Linked DNA regions of Homo sapiens. The protein of the gene in region 2 purifies or fractionates together with the protein of the main gene of each other region. This does not show direct contact. Each region holds a gene or a part of one and is shown on either strand. Other genes may lie near its edges. The genes, in order: ANGPTL8 and ANGPTL3.

Evidence for each region.
Region 1: the proteins of ANGPTL3 (region 2) and ANGPTL8 purify together in Homo sapiens (co-immunoprecipitation; one study listed by IntAct). This does not show direct contact.

What each region holds. Positions count from the first base shown.
Region 1 is NC_000019.10:11,238,447-11,242,418, reverse strand, and holds ANGPTL8 (angiopoietin-like protein 8 precursor), read right to left. Parts: upstream 2,801-3,972; 5' UTR 2,782-2,800; coding exon 2,485-2,781; intron 2,285-2,484; coding exon 2,123-2,284; intron 975-2,122; coding exon 865-974; intron 760-864; coding exon 732-759; 3' UTR 476-731; downstream 1-475. Other genes in the region: DOCK6 (dedicator of cytokinesis protein 6), read left to right, coding at 212-374. UniProt on the Homo sapiens protein: Hormone that acts as a blood lipid regulator by regulating serum triglyceride levels. May be involved in the metabolic transition between fasting and refeeding: required to direct fatty acids to adipose tissue for storage in the fed state.
Region 2 is NC_000001.11:62,596,136-62,600,319, reverse strand, and holds the start of ANGPTL3 (angiopoietin-related protein 3 preproprotein), read right to left. Parts: upstream 2,801-4,184; 5' UTR 2,754-2,800; coding exon 2,259-2,753; intron 1,625-2,258; coding exon 1,514-1,624; intron 1-1,513. UniProt on the Homo sapiens protein: Acts in part as a hepatokine that is involved in regulation of lipid and glucose metabolism. Proposed to play a role in the trafficking of energy substrates to either storage or oxidative tissues in response to food intake.

The DNA.
Region 1 (3,972 bases), on a different chromosome or scaffold from region 2:
CCACTTAAAAAAAAGAAAAACAAAAACGAAAAAAAATTTAGGGTGACAGACAGCAGAGTTGAGGGCAATTTCTGGCCTTGGCGCCTGAGGGACACAGCCCCCAGTCCCCAGAGAACATCATGGGAGAGTCTGCCCTGACTACACAGCCCAGAAAGGGTGGGCTGAGCCAGGAGGCTCCCAGGCAGGTGCAAACCGGTTCTTCCCTTCCCAGCCCAGCTCAAGATCGACATTTCTCCGGCTCCTGAAAATCCCCACTTCTGCCTCTCCCCTGAGCTGCTTCATATCAAGCCCTACCCGGACCCCAGGGGCCGGCCCACCAAGGAGATTCTGGAGTTCCCCGCCCGCGAAGTCTATGCCCCCCATACCAGCTACAGGTACGGCCTCTGGGGCCCAGCTGGGCACTTGAATGGGAGGTATTCATACATCATGCTGGGTGGGGTCTCCCTAAGCCAAGGACACACACAGACACCCTGGGTGAGATGCCACGACTCTGCTTTAATGAGGGGTGTGTAGGCATGAAAGGGTACATGTCCTTCCTCCACCCCTCCCCAATGGGGCTACATCCTCTGCCTTTGTCCCCGCCTGCGTCTGTCTCTGCTCTGTGCTCAGAAGTGGGGCCCGGCGCCCTGGCTGATCCCAGTGAACAGGCAGCTCCTCCCTGCACAGGGGCCTCACGGGGCGTGGAAGTGTTCCTTGCAGCATGATTGGTCCTCAGTTCCATCCAGGCAGATTCAGGCTGGGAGCGCCGCTGTGTGGAGTCTGGGGAGGGAGATGTGGCTCAGCCCAGGTGAGGGGGCCCCTTTCCAGCTGCCCTGTGCGCCCCCCATCCAACTGCCCTGCCTGCCAAACCCCTGCCAGGCTCACCTCTCCTGGATCTGTCGCAGCCGATGCTGCTGTGCCACCATCTCCCGCCTCTGCCGCTGCACGTGGCCTGTGAGGGCCCATAGGATGTGGCTCTGCTTGTCAGCGTGAGCCTGTGGGGGTCAGAATGGAAACCTCAGCCGACAGCCACCTCACCTCCCATCCCCTGACCCTCTGCCCCAGCCCCTCATTGTATCTGTGTGACCCAGCAAGTCAACAATGCTCTTTGGCCTCAGTTTCCCCATCTGTAAAATGGGGATAAAATAGGACTCACTTCATGGGGAGGTGATGAACATCCTATGGATTTTTTTTTTTTTTTGAGTCTCTCTCTGTCACCCAGGCTGAGTGCAATGACACGATCTCAGCTCACTGCAACCTCCACCTCCCAGGTTCAAGCGATTCTCCTACCTAAGCCTCCTGAGTAGCTGGGACTACAGGCATGTGCCACCACGCCCAGCTAATTTTTTGTATTTTTAGTAGAGACGGGGTTTCACCATGTTGGCCAGGGTGGTCTCGAACTCCTGACCTTAAGTGTTCCACCCACCTTAGCTACCCAAAGTGCTGGGATTACAGGCATGAGCCACCATGCCCGGCCATCATATGGATTATTAAAGGGCATAGAACAGTGCTGGGTACTTACTGGGTGCTCACAAAATGTTACCAGTTTCTCTAGTAGTAAGAATTTATTGGCCAGGTGTAGTGGCTCACACCTGTAATCCCAGCACTTTGGGAAACCGAGGCAGGCAGATCCCTTGAGGTCAGGAGTTCGAGACCAGCCTGGCCAACATGGTGAAATCCCATCTCTACTAAAAAATACAAAAATTAGCTGGTGCACCTGTAATTCCAGCTACTCAGGAGGCTGAGGCAGGAGAATCACTTGAACCTAGGAGGTGGAGGTTGCAGTGAGCCAAGATCACACCACTGCACTCCAGCCTGGGCAACAGTGAGACTCTGTCTCAAAAAAAAAAAAAAAAAGAATTTATTGAGCACCAACTGTGTGCCCGCCCCATGCTGAATATTTTACCTGCATTGAGTACCTGGCCCTACTGTGAGATATCAGGTGTTGCCCTTATTTGCAACTGAGGCACACAAAAGGGAAACTGAGGCACACAAAAGGACTTGAGTTTTGTCTGGGGACATGCAGGGTAGAGGCCACAGAGCTGGGAGGCTGATCTGGGAGGTCTTTGGGACTCAAGGTGCAGAAGCGAGTTCTGGCCGGAAATCAGGGTCTCAGCCCACTAGGGTTGGGGGAGCTCCTTACCTTTAAGACCTCAAATTCTCGGTAGGCAGGGCCCAGCCAGGCGCTCCTCAGCTGGACTTCTAGCCGCTGCACGCTGTCCCGTAGCACCTTCTGTGCCTGGGCCACCTCCCCCAGCACCTCAGCTGTGGCCTCTGCCTGCAGCTGCAGAATATCCTCCTCCATCTGCTTAATAAACAGTGGGTCACTAGTAGGATGTCCAACTCATCTTTGTGTACCTAAGGACTTGCCTGAGTTTATCGCTGAAAATCTTGTATCCCAGGAATCCCTTCAGTCCTGGGCAAACCAGGATGGTTGGTTACCCTAGACACGAACTCCTCTTTGGACTCCTGGCCACCCCACAGTGTCGCAGCTACGGTGCCCACCTGAGTCTCCAACAGGCTTGCCCGAAGTTCCTGGGCTGCATCCCGGCCCCGGCTGACCTCCTGCCCCAGGAGTTCTATTGTGCGGCCATAGAGACCCAGGCTGTTCCTGGCCTTTGTCAGCCGTCCCTCCGTGGTCCTGTACACACCGTTGAGGGCCTGGCCCAGCTGCAGGGTCCCATGGAAGAGCAGGGTCAGCTCCTCATGCTGTGCCAGTTCTGGGCCGCCCATGGGGGCCGCTGAGGCAGGCCGGGTCACCATTGCCAGGGCCCAGAGCAGGCACAGAGCAGGCACTGGCATGACTGAGGGTCTAAGGTATAGCCACAGCACTGTCACTGAAGCCTTTTATGCCTCATACCCCCACTGATCCCCAGTCAATCGTTAACTGGCCGACCTGGTGCCCCGCATTGCACAAGGGCCTGGCAGTGGTGCGATAGTTGCATCAGGCGAATGTCCGGCTAGGCCACGCCGGGATCACGCTTCCTGGGGCTCAGGGCCAGGTGTGGGTGGGGGGCATTGGGAGAGGACGGGCCCCAGACCCTGCTGGGAGTTCCTGAGACTCACCATGCTGAGCCTGTTTCTCCATCTATGAATAGGCATCGCAATGATGATGGTAATAACAGTAAAGATTTTATAAGCATTGATGGTTTGCCCTGAGCTGTTTGACCTGCCATTACAATATCTGCTCTTGTTCCCCTCCCACATACTTGCCACGTGGGGGCTTTTATTGGCCTGGTTAGTATCCAAGGGGGCAGGTGCAGGTGGCAGAGACTCTCCCAAGGTCACACAGCCTGATCTCCAAGACCTGCATATGCCCAGATCACCACTGACTGCCATTTTACTCCGTGGGTGATTGTGCAAGTACCTCAGTTTCCCTGCTTGTAAAATGGCGGTGATGTTAGTCCTGCCTCATGAGCTACTTGTGAGAAGTAAATGAGTTATTTCATGTTGAGTGCTTAGAACAGAGCCTGGCACACAGTAGGCGCGATTATTTCATTGTTGTAGTAATAGTGTTTGGTGCAATTATTGTCATTGTTGTTATTTATCATCATCAGTATCATTACAAAGGCTCAGCTGGAAGGCCTGAAGTGCCCATTATACACATAGGGAAACTGAGGCCCAGAGAGGGGTCAAGGCTTGCACAGAGTTGCCCCTGGGGGAAGGAGGCAGGACTCGGACTCTGGCCTCAGTTTCCCCACCTGAGAAACAGGCCACATAACTCTAGTGACCTCCTGGGGGAAGGGCAGTCAGGCCCTTGGGTGGGGCTTAGGCTTGACCACTGGCCACCTGAGGTACCTTGGAACTCTGGCCCTGAGTGCCTCGCTATTCTCTGCCTTCTGTGTGTCACTGTGCCCCATGAGTGCCTCCAATGTCCTTCTGTATTCCCACCCTCTACCACACTGTTCCCAATCTGTGTTTTTAGGGTGCTCGCTTGTCCCCCACCCTCTGCCCTCTGTCCTATCTCCTGACTGATACCTGTATTACCTCTCA
Region 2 (4,184 bases):
AGTTACTTAAATTTTTAGAGTTTTGTTTTTTTAATTTAAATATGAGAAAGTTAAATGATCTAACTCTTCTTCCAACTCAGAAATTCATTGTTTTGGTTTCTTCACACATTTTTATTTTTAGACACAATGTATATTACTATAGTAACATTTTGCTTTGGGGAGCAGGTTCATTTAATCATAGTAAAAGATATAATTGAAAAGAATTTAGAATAATAACATCATAAGAAGGAAAGTATGGAAACCAAAAGTAGTTGATAAAAAACCTTTTAGCAGCACTACTAACATTATGTTTGTTTAGTGGAAATTGGTAATAATATTTGTTTTATATCTCTTGAAAATGATTTTGTTTACCAGTTTCTCTGAGTTTATATTATGTTTTTTGAATCCTCTTGAATAGCTGTTTGAGAGTATTATTAATATTTTTAAACTATTGTACTGCATATTAGAATACATGGATTCTGACATAGCTTTTTTCTAAACAAGTGCTTCCCTCTGTCACTTCACCAGATGTTTACATTGTAGATTAATTACATTGTTGAATGTTGACCTTTAATTATGAGGCACACTATTTCTAGTAATCCAAGTAATAATAATCATAGCACACGCTTCTGTGTGAATATGACATTACATTTATTAATTCAACAGAAATGCCTACTGTGTGCCATACAGTATTCTATATTCTGGAGTATATACAAATAATGGAAAATATGAAGATAATGGAAAAAATCCCTGTATTCACAGAGCTTACATTTTAGTGCAGGAATAGAAGAGATAAATAACTAAAATTTATGTTATGTTAAATAAAGGTGAGTGTGCAGGAGAAAAGTAGCTAAGGAAGTAGAAGTTTTCAGGGATGGGACCAGGCGGTTGTGATTTTTGGTTAAGTGACCTTGTAAGTCTTCATTGGGAATTTTTTGTTTGATAACGACCCTAAGGGAAATCAGAGAGTGGGCCACGTAGATACCAGGGCAGAAGAGCGTTCCAGTTAGAGGAAACAACAAGGGCAAAGGCTTTGAGGTGGCAGTATGTTTGATGTGTTTGAATACTGGTAAAGCGGTCAGAATAACTAGAGTAGAGGAGGTGAAGTCAGTGAGATGACGAAGGGTTGGGTAATCTTGGTCTAAAGAGCCAATATGAGTGAAATGGAAAGCTATTGTGTGGTTTTGAGCAAAGAGAAACATGATCTAATTTGAATTTTAGTAAGATGACATTGGCTGCTATGAATTAATTTTTTTTCTTACAATAATCCTATAAGTTCTGTTATTATCTTTGTAGTATATGTGAGGAAACTGAGAGATAAAGGGGTGAAGTAATTTATTCAAGGTCACACAAAGTTTTAGAGCCATGGTTTAAATGCAGGTAGTTTATTAGCTTCAGAGCCTGCAATTTTAACAGTTATGCTGATGTGATAATTTTACTCATGATCCAGTTAAAGCTTGTAAATAATTTTAGGATTCAGTGTTTTTACAGACCTGTGTGAAAGATGGGACATACCATTAAAATACTGACTTACCTGATTTTCTATTTCTTTTATTTGACTATGCTGTTGGTTTAATTGTTTATATTGGTCTTCCACGGTCTGGAGAAGGTCTTTGATGCTATTATCTTGTTTTTCTACAAAAGTCTGGATATAGAGAGTAGGTTGGTTATAAGTTGCTTTCCTCTTTCTTTTCTATTAATTTCCTGTAACACTATCATAATCTAAATTTTTAAACTAATAATGGATTTGAAAAATGAATATTGGCAATTCCTTCCCCTTGTATGCTTCTTTCAAATAGCACATATTTTTGTCCTTAACATTTTATTTAAATTGTACTATCTCTAAAATTTGATTTTCTGAACTTCAATTAAAAGAAAAAGCCCAGCATATTTTCATATGAATAAATCTTTTCCATTTACTGTATTATTTAATCTGTTTTAAACACTGGAGAATAGTTTTAAATTTTTTTTAACTTTTTACTTACCTTCAGTAATTTACAATAGTGTAATGACATAGTGTTCTAGATTGTATAATTTAACCGATTTGTAATTTTCATATAAAATGCAAATTTTCAGTGTTTTCATATATAACATTAGGGAAACAAAAAACTAACTTGAAATTATAATAGGAAATTTTATTTTCTGGAGATTATTTTTCTTGGAAAAAAAAGTATTTCAACAATGCAACAAAGTATTTCAAATGGCATGCCTTAGAAATATTTTTTTTAAAAGATCCACATTGAAAACATAAACATGAACCCTCTTTATTTTCTACTTACTTTAAGTGAAGTTACTTCTGGGTGTTCTGGAGTTTCAGGTTGATTTTGAATTAAGTTAGTTAGTTGCTCTTCTAAATATTTCACTTTTTGTTGAAGTAGAATTTTTTCTTCTAGGAGGCTTTCAAGTTTTGAGTTGAGTTCAAGTGACATATTCTTTACCTCTTCATTTTTGACTTGTAGTTTATATGTAGTTCTTCTCAGTTCCTTTTCTTCTTCTTTGATTTCACTGGTTTGCAGCGATAGATCATAAAAAGACTGATCAAATATGTTGAGTTTTTGAAATATGTCATTAATTTGGCCCTTCGTCTTATGGACAAAGTCTTTAAGACCATGTCCCAACTGAAGGAGGCCATTGGCTAAAATTTTTACATCGTCTAACATAGCAAATCTTGATTTTGGCTCTGGAGATAGAGAATCAAATGATGAATTGTCTTGATCAATTCTGGAGGAAATAACTAGAGGAACAATAAAAAGAAGGAGCTTAATTGTGAACATTTTTATCTTGATTTTCAATTTCAAGCAACGTGGAACTGTTTTCTTCTGGAAGCAGACCTAGACTTCTTAACTCTATATATACCAATATTTGCCCAGAAAAGGTAAGGTTGGTAGGTGAACATAGTTAATCATTAAGCCGTGTTAACTTGCACGAATGTAACCTTCTTCCACATTGAGTTAGATCAATGCTAAATGAAATCAAAGAAATGAGCAACTAACTTAATAGGTAATTTGAAATTGTATTTAACTTTGCTGTATTATAAACTACACATTCAATGCTATGGTGACTACCTGTTTTTAAAAGCTAATTTTACTTTTTTATGATTTTAAGAGATTTACAAGTCAAAAATAAACTTTTTTGTTGGGTAAATTTATTATTAAAGTTGAGGGGAAAAAAGTAATGAATTAAGTATGCATTTCTCAAACTGTACTTTAGTTCTTTTGGAAACAGTGATCCATTCCAAAAAACACTTTCTCTCTGAAGCCTTTCTCCACTCCCTCAGGTGGTGTTACGGCTCTCAATGCTGTGTTCCTCTGGTACTCTGTATAAATCAATGTATAATTATATGCTCCTCATTTTTTGTCACTATAATTGTTAATATGTTTTTTTGCATCACCTTATATGTCTTAACCATCCTTGTATATTGTCACAAAATCCCATATATAGTAAGTGTCATTAAAGACATTTCACTCCCTTTTCTCCACTGTGTTCTGTGTCTCTGTGTTCTAGGCTCTTTACCATGTGCTCGTTGAAGGAACAATGGATATGTGGTCATCTAGGACCAAACTAGAATTGAATCTTAAATACCTTCAATGTCACAAGCAGCTTGCCCATCATAAGTTTTTCTGAAGTTTGTTAGCTTAGTAACAATTTTGATAATATACATTTAACAAAAAGAGGAGATTAATAACATTTTTTTTTTAAAGATGATGTCTTAATGTATTGCCCATGCTGGTCTGGAAATACTGGGCTCAAGCAATTCTTTTACCTTGGCCTCCCAAAATTTACAGGCATGAGCCCAGCCGATTACAAGCGTGAGCCCAGCCAATTAATAATATTTCTAAAAATAAATGTTCCACTATGCTTCCAACTTAGTGTTAAAAAAATACTAAATGCTTATATTAGTGATTATTCTTATTGAGTGTTCATATTAAGAAATTTGTGAGAAAATAGCATCCTTTAAAACTGCTTAATCTTGACATATTAATATGGTGAAATTGTTAAGAATATGGGTGCTGGAGTCAGACTGTGGTGTGGGTCCAAAAGCCGGCTCTAGCTGTCTGGCCTTGGACAAGTTACTTAACCTCCCCATGGATTAGTCTCCTCATCTGTAAAGCTGGGGTAATTATAGTACATAATTCATAGTGTTATGATAATTTAACAATAATACATGTAGAGCACTTAGAACAGTGCTGGGCAAACAGGTAGTG